Regions from separate parts of the Homo sapiens genome. Here regions 2 and 3 are each linked to region 1. The links come from fine-mapping of genetic effects on gene expression. A gene starts in region 1. Each other region holds a variant in brackets. All regions are shown on one strand. Distances are from middle to middle.

Region 1 (2,761 bases):
GAAGTAATATATGTGTGTACAAAAAAAACACATATCATAAGTATATAGCTCACTGAATTTTCACAAACTGAATTTGTCAATGTAATTGGCATCCATAGCAAAAAGCAGAACCCAGCTAACATCTCAGATGCTCCTCTGTGCCCTTTCCAGTTACTAGCTACTACCCAGGGTGACCACTATTCTGACTTCTCATGCCTTGGAAGTGTTTTGCCTAATTTTGTTCTTGATATAAATTAAATCATACAGTATAAACATGCTTGTATCTCTTTTTTTACTCAAAATTTTGTTTGTGAGATTTATCCACATTGTTATATATGGTCAGAGTTTGTTCGTTTTCATTGCTATATAAAATTTCACTTACAGTCTAACCATTCTACTGTTGATGGATATTTGGTTTCCAGTTTGGGGGTTATTATGAATAGTGCTACTATCAACATTCTATTAATGTATTTTGGTGTATGTATGCGTGAATTTCTTTGGACATTTTTGTGTTTTTTAAATCCACAGTCAGTGAACCCTAAGTGTTCCTCAGCATTGCAGTCAGTATATTTACCATGTATGCGTTACTCAAATGACAGCTGTAGTTGCAGGCATTACCAAATCCTTCCCTCCTTAATGTTATCACTGGACTTTGTCTATACTTGGGATTCTTAACATGTTGTATTTTGGTTAAGTATGCGTATTCATGTTTTTTATTAGATTTTGAGTGCTTTTTAGTACTTTGTTTTACTTGCTTATGTATCCCGACTCCTGACGAGGTACCTGAAATATAGTAAGCTAGTTGAGCGAATGGTGATAGCTGTCACCATTGCCAGTGATTAACAGAGCAAGTTTCCCTAGTTATGTGAATCACTTAGCCTAGAGTAAAATCCATGCTTTAGTTTGATATCTCAGTGTCAAAGGATTAGGAATGGGAAGTCATTTCTCTCTGAGAGAAGCCCAGAACTGTGGGCTCAGAACTGAATGTGCTGTGTGGCTAAAGGGAATTGCTATGGCTTTACAAGCCTCTTGGAGATTTAAAGTGTTAACAGCAGTGATTCCAAGGCATAGTGTGGGGGGGCCAGATATAAATAGCAGAACACAAGTAGCGTAGTGTGCCACTGCCAAGCTACTGCTGGGGGTGTTTATAAAAAGAAAAGCATTCCTGTCTCAGCTCTCACTGTCAACAACATCCCATCCTGAAGACTTGCTTACCACAACTGAGAGTGGGGAGTCAGTTTGAGGCCTAGCATCACTTAAACTTCCTCCAAAGGCACAAAAGCCAGGTAAACCTTTTGACTTATTTACACTCAGACTAAAGAAATGAACAATTTTTAGGAAAATCCTGATCAAAGCTTGCTTAAAACATATTGCCTTGTGACAGATATCTATCATCTTATATTCAAATCTTTTTTGGAAAGAGAAGTTTAACACAAAGTAGCATGTTGGTACTATATTTTAGTATTTTTAGTAAAAACAAAACAAAACTGCTTCTGAAGAAATATGGGAAACTGAGGCCAAAATGATCTATAAAAGGGAAGACTTCTCCCTTCCCCTGTGCTGTTCATTCTCATTTTTAGAATCCAGAATATGGTGATTGGTAGGGTAAAATAGAAGCTTCATTTGAGTTACATTATCATAAATACTGGGATGAATATTAGGCATTCGGCCAATAGTTGTATAATCTTAGAATTGCTGCCTACCCAGTTCCTTCTTATTCTTGTTCCCGCCTTCAGAAAGTTATGTAAGACACTTATTTTACCCTCGGGCTTCTCTTGATTGTATTTGGGGGAAGGGGGCCATCTCTGACAATCCACTGCTTTGTACCACTACTGACCTCATCATCTCCTCTGTCCCACTCAAAAGGGCATGACAATGTGCAAAGAGGATAGAAGAATGGATAATGTGCATGGACATATTCCTGGGGAATTCTTAGAAACTGGGAGCTAGGGGACCAATTTGAGACTGCTGTTTTTTAGTCTGATTGTGTTATTTCCTGTGCACGCTGAGGGGAGATTTAGAGATGGGAAGAAAATATGACTCCCAGTGACTGTGGTGGGAGAGATGACATGTCTGGAGGAGTATGGAAATGCACAGATTTAATCTTGAGCAAATCACTGAAATTCTAAGGTGTTTTTGTTTCCTCGTCTGTAGAATGAGAGCATTAGACCACTAGATAAAGCCTAATGGCTCTTGTAGCCCGTTAGGAATTTATTGATAATCACTTCCTGACCATCATGCTATCCACTCACATTCTAAATGAAAAAATACGCAGTGTCATCCTATTCTACTTCCCTACACCTCTTTTTTGAGTCTACTGAATTGAAATTTCTTTATTTTAATTTAGAAGAGAAAAATGAAGACGGGACATTTTGAAATAGTCACCATGCTGCTGGCAACCATGATTCTAGTGGACATTTTCCAGGTAATGTTGGGAATGGGAAGCATGTGGTCATTGGAATGGAAATTCGTTTTTTTTTTTTTTTGAGACGGAGTCTCTCTCTGTCGCCCAGACTGCTGGAGTGCAGTGGCTCGATTTCGGCTCACTGCAAGCTCCGCCTCCCAGGTTCATGCCATTTTCCTGCCTCAGCCTCCCCAGTAGCTAGGACTACAGGCGCCTGCCACCACGCCTGGCTAATTTTTTGTATTTTTGGTAGAGACGGGTTTTCACCATGTTAGCCAGGATGGTCTCGATCTCCTGACCTCATGATCCGCCCACCTCGACCTCCCAAAGTGCTGGGATTACAGGCGTGAGCCACCGCGCTTGGCCTGGAATGGAAAT
Region 2 (2,761 bases), 32 kb before region 1:
TATTCCAATAGCCACATTTAGAAAGTAAAAAGAAACAGATGAAATTAATTTAAATATATTTTCTTTAATTAAGCATGAAAATATATTATTTCAATGTGTAATCAATGTGGATATAAAAATGTTAAATGAAATATTTTACCTTTTATTACTAAGTCTTCAAATTGAACTAGCTACATTTCAAATGCTTGATAATAACATGTGTTTAGTGGCTACCATATTGGACAGTGAAGGTCTAGTTATTCATTTGGCATGTATTATATACTGACTCCATACTTATTTTAAACTAAAGCTGAGGTTGGAGAGGCAGATAGATAACTGTCAAACTCCTGTAAATTTCCCTAGTTGTTTTCTTCTTTCTCTAAGTCATTATATCTCATTGCTCTTTTTCTTTGATTAAATGCAAAAAAGATCAGATACATTCTCTGTGTTCTTAGCAGTGTTGGCCTTTTTTATTGTTTCCAGAATTGGACTACTTTATTTTATTTTCCCAGGTTCACCCACTTAAATAAGTTTTGCTTTTAATTTAAAGACATAGGAGCATCCCAGGAAATGATGGAATCTAGTTTCCATAAGTAATCACCTTTTCAGCTTAAAAAATCTGTAATCTGTGCTTCATCTGAAATTTTATTAATGCTGCTAAGTTAGCCAATTAATGTAGAATTTTAAAATGTTTCCAAGTTAAAAGAGATTAATGTAAGCTATTTAAAAATAATTTCCAACTCACCATTCACCAGGTCTCTGAATAATATATTGCCTGACAAAAGAAAAAAGGTAGTATCAAGGATATTTTATTCAGTTAAGTTAGTGAAAAGTGGGTTAGAAATGAAAACTAATGTTTCCATTTATTATAAATAAGTATGACTTAAAAGAATCCTGTTTTGAGTGTTAGAAGACAGATGACTCACTCCTAGGGAAGAGGTTGCCAGGCATGTAATAGACACCTGAAATAATATAGATAGACTGAACAGATTAATGTAGAATCCTAAACTCTTAAAAGTGTGTCCAGAATTGGTGGGTTCTTGGTCTCGCTGACTTCAAGAATGAAGCCACGGACCCTCGCGGTGAGTGTTACAGCTCTTAAGGTGGCGCGTCTGGAGTTTGTTCCTTCTGATGTTCGGATGTGTTCGGAGTTTGTTCCTTCTGGTGGGTTCGTGGTCTCGCTGGCTCAGGAGTGAAGCTGCAGACTTTCGCGGTGAGTGTTACAGCTCATAAAAGCAGTGTGGACCCAAAGAGTGAGCAGCAGCAAGATTTATTGCAAAGAGTGAAAGAACAAAGCTTCCACAGTGTGGAAGGGGACCTGAGCGGGTTGCCACTGCTGGCTCGGGCAGCCTGCTTTTATTCTCTTATCTGGCCCCACCCACGTCCTGCTGATTGGTAGAGCCGAGTGGTCTGTTTTGACAGGGCGTGATTGGTGCGTTTACAATCCCTGAGCTAGACACAAAGGTTCTCCACATCCCCACCAGATTAGCTAGATACAGAGTGTC[G/A]ACACAGAGGTTCTCCGGGGCCCCACCAGAATAGCTAGATACAGAGTGTCGATTGGTGCATTCACAAACCCTGAGCTAGACACAGGGTGCTGACTGGTGTATTTACAAACCTTGAGCTAGATACAGAGGGCTGATTGGTGTATTTACAATCCCTGAGCTAGACATAAAGGTTCTCCACGTCCCCACCAGACTCAGGAGCCCAGCTGGCTTCACGCAGTGGATCCCGCACCAGGGCTGCAGGTGGAGCTGCCTGCCAGTCCCGGTGCTGTGTGCCCACACTCCTCAGCCCTTGGGTGGTCAATGGGACTGGGCACCGTGGAGCAGGGGGTGGCACTCGTCAGGGAGGCTCGGGCCACACAGGAGCCCATGGAGGGGGTGGGAGGCTCAGGCATGGCGGGCTGCAGGTCCCGAGCCCTGCCCTGTAGGAAGGCAGCTAAGGCCCGATGAGAAATCGAGTGCAGTGCCAGCCCACTGGGGGACCCAGTACACCCTCCGCAGCTGCTGGCCTGGGTGCTAAGCCCCTCATTGCCCGGGGCCGGCAGGGCTGGCCAGCTGTTCCGAGTGCGGGGCCCACCAAGCCCACGCCCACCCAGAACTCCAGCTGGCCCACAAGCGCTGTGCGCAGCCCTGGTTCCCACTGGCGCCTGTCCCTCCACACCTCCCTGCAAGCTGAGCGAGCCAGCTCCGGCCTTGGCCAGCCCAGAAAGGGGCTCCCACAGTGCAGCAGTGGGCTGAAGGGCTCCTCAAGTGCCGCCAAAGTGGAAGCCCAGGCAGAGGAGGTACCAAGAGCAAGCGAGGGCTGTGAGGACTGCCAGCACACTGTCACCTCTCAATCCCACCTCTAAACAGGACACCCCAACTGCTGTTGGGAATTTGGCCGATGACCACTCTAGCTACTTCCTGCTGGATAGGGGTGAAGAAGGGGCCCTGCAGTTGTAGTGTCCTTCAGAGGGGAACTCTCTAGGCCAGGGGAAGTGCCAGCGGGTTGGTCCAGGGGTCCTTGGTAGAAGTTGTTAGTTGAACTCATTTGGGGTTCCATTTGTAAGACCATCTGTAGCTTGATGGCCTCGATTCTAGAGGAAACAAATTTGACAGGAAGGTTAAAAATACAGGGCCCAAAAGCGAGTAACAGCAAGATGGCTGCCATGGGACCTAGAAAGGGGAGAAGCCATGTTGCCCAACTCCAGAGATTGGTATAAGAATTTGAAAGGCGTTGTCTGATTTCAGAAGCCTTTTCCTGTAAACGCCGGGCGGCATCTCATACTATCCCCGACTGG
Region 3 (2,761 bases), 23 kb before region 1:
GTTACAGCTCATAAAAGCAGTGTGGACCCAAAGAGTGAGCAGCAGCAAGATTTATTGCAAAGAGTGAAAGAACAAAGCTTCCACAGTGTGGAAGGGGACCTGAGCGGGTTGCCACTGCTGGCTCGGGCAGCCTGCTTTTATTCTCTTATCTGGCCCCACCCACGTCCTGCTAATTGGTAGAGCTGAGTGGTCTGTTTTGACAGGGCGCTGATAGGTGGGTTTACAATCCCTGAGCTAGACACAAAGGTTCTCCACATCCCCACCAGATTAGCTAGATACAGAGTGTCGACACAAAGGTTCTCCAGGGCCCCACCAGAATAGCTAGATACGGAGTGTCAATTGGTGCATTCACAAACCCTGAGCTAGACACAGGGTGCTGATTGGTGTATTTACAAACCTTGAGCTAGATACAGAGGGCCGATTGGTGTATTTGCAATCCCTGAGCTAGACATAAAAGTTCTCCATGTTCCCACCAGACTCAGGAGCCCAGCTGGCTTCACGCAGTGGATCCCGCACCAGGGCTGCAGGTGGAGCTGCCTGCCAGTCCCGGTGCTGTGTGCCCGCACTCCTCAGCCCTTGGGTGGTCGATGGGACTGGGCACCGTGGAGCAGGGGGTGGCACTTGTCGCGGAGGCTCGGGCCACACAGGAGCCCATGGAGGGGGTGGGAGGCTCAGGCATGGCGGGCTGCAGGTCCTGAGCCCTGCCCCGCAGGAAGGCAGCTAAGGCCCGATGAGAAATGGAGCGCAGTGCCAGTGGGCTGGCACTGCTGGGGGACCCAGTACACCCTCCGCAGCTGCTAGCCCGGGTGCTAAGCCCCTCATTGCCTGGGGCCGGCAGGGCCGGCGGGCTGCTCCGAGTGCGGGGCCCGCCAAGCCCACGCCTACCCGGAACTCCAGCTGGCCTGCAAGCCCACGCGCAGCCCTGGTTCCCGCTGGCGCCTGTCCCTCCACACCTCCCTGCAAGCTGAGGGAGCCGGCTCCGGCCTTGGCCAGCCCAGAAAGGGGCTCCCACAGTGCAGCAGTGGGCTGAAGGGCTCCTCAAGTGCCGCCAAAGTGGGAGCCCAGGCAGAGGAGGTGCCGAGAGCAAGCGAGGGCTGTGAGGACTGCCAGCACACTGTCACCTCTCAAAAGTACAGTAGTATAGTACCTGATGCTGTTTTTTAGAGGGATTTAGGCATGCCAATGACTTTAGGGAGCTGCCGGTGGATTTTTTTTTAAGAGTTCTTAGTAGAATACTACTGTGAGTTTCTTATAATATTATTAAAATACCCGTCCCAGAAATGAGACAGATTCTGCAGGCTATATTCAAGGTAGCCATTAGGCACTGGGTAAGGCTCTATTTTTTTCATCAAAACTTGGAGTAAATTGTATAAATAACATTAAAATCATTAAGACGTTGAGGAATAATGCATGTTTTAATGCCATTGAAAAGAGTTCCAAAGTGATGATGAATTTTTTGTTTGTTTGTTTTAGACCTGCTCTATCGCCCAGGCTGGAGTGCAATG[G/A]CGTGATCTCGGCTGACCGCAGTATCTGCCTCCCGGGCACAAACCATCTTCCCACCTCAGCCTCCTGAGTAGCTGGGACTATGGGCACACACGTCCACAGCCAGCTAATGTTTTTGTATTTTTGGTAGAGTTGGGGTTTCGCCATGTTGCCCAGGCTGGTCTCGAATTCCTGTGCCCAAGTGGTCTTCCCACCTCAACCTCCCAAAGTGCTGGGATTACTGGCATAAGCCACTGTACCTGGCTGACAATGAATTTTAAATAAGGATGTTTCTGAGTTTATGTTGTATCTCTCTCTCTCTCTTTTTTTTTTTTTTTTTTTTTTGAGACAGAGTTTCGCTCTTGCTGCCCAGGCTGGAGTGGAGTGCAATGGCGCAATCTCAGCTCACTGCAACCTCCGCCCCTGAGTTCAAGCCTTTCTCCAGCCTCAGCCTGCCGAGTAGCCTGGATTACGGTCGCCTGCCACCATGCCCAGCTAATTTTTTTTGTATTTTTATTAGAGACGGGGTTTCGCCATGCTCACGCCTGTAATCCCAGCACTTTGGGAGGCTGAGGTGGGCAGATCACCTGAAGTCAGGATTTTGAGACCTGCCTGGTCAATATGCTTTATCTCTTTCTGGGACTTTGACATAAGAAGAGATTTCCAAAGGTTGTATTCTGCTAATGTAGTCTGGTATTTGAGAATGAGATATATCAATGCTCACATTTTATAAGGATGACTTCATCCTTGATATGTGCTACCCCAAACATTGCAGTCGCAAGTGCATGCACAGAATAAGGGCCAGTTTTCAGTGACTACCGTATCACCATACGGAACTTCTCATGCTTGAGAGAGCCACTGGTAGCCATCTACCTTTCCTTTCCTTGTCAGTATAAATTTGGGGGATACAAATATAATTTTGTTACATGGATATATTGCATAGTGGTGAAATTAGGGCTTTTAGTGTATCCATCACCAGAATAATGTACATGGTACCCATTAAGTAGTTTCTCATCATCCACCGCCCCCAACCCTTCCAAGTCTCCACTGTCTATCATTCCATACTCTATGTCTATGTGTACACATTATTTAGCTCCCACTTGTAAGTGAGAACATGCGTGTACCCAATTTCTTTTTTCCTTCTTTTTTTTTTTTTTAAGACAGAGTCTTGCTCTGTCATCCAGGCTGGAGTGCACGGGCACGATCTCGGCTTGCTGCAACCCCTGCCTCCCAGATTCAAGCAAACAGATTCAAGCAATTCTCGTGCCTCAGCCTCCCA

Which allele goes with the higher level. Alleles are on the strand shown, and positions count from the first base shown. SD is a standard deviation of normalised expression in the study named. Not every link is listed here.
With allele A in place of G in region 3, the expression in sun-exposed skin of the gene that starts at base 1,155 in region 1 is higher (large effect, 0.83 SD a copy in GTEx).

The links. PIP is the estimated chance that this variant, and not a neighbour inherited with it, causes the effect.
Region 2: its variant is the best candidate, but not a certain one, in a credible set for the expression of ART3 in pituitary (GTEx, PIP 0.67).
Region 3: its variant is the best candidate, but not a certain one, in a credible set for the expression of ART3 in sun-exposed skin (GTEx, PIP 0.58).

The regions. Positions count from the first base shown.
Region 1 is chr4:76,073,555-76,076,315 of GRCh38, forward strand. ART3 (ADP-ribosyltransferase 3 (inactive)) reads left to right here and starts at 1,155. Exons shown (of 12, transcript NM_001130016.3): 1 at 1,155-1,265; 2 at 2,327-2,404. The coding sequence starts at 2,336.
Region 2 is chr4:76,041,535-76,044,295 of GRCh38, forward strand. It overlaps a transcript of ART3 not described here. Among named protein-coding and RNA genes, the nearest start is that of CXCL11, 6.8 kb to the left of the region's middle. The variant G/A (reference allele first, on the strand shown) is at 1,485.
Region 3 is chr4:76,050,094-76,052,854 of GRCh38, forward strand. It overlaps a transcript of ART3 not described here. Among named protein-coding and RNA genes, the nearest start is that of CXCL11, 15 kb to the left of the region's middle. The variant G/A (reference allele first, on the strand shown) is at 1,506.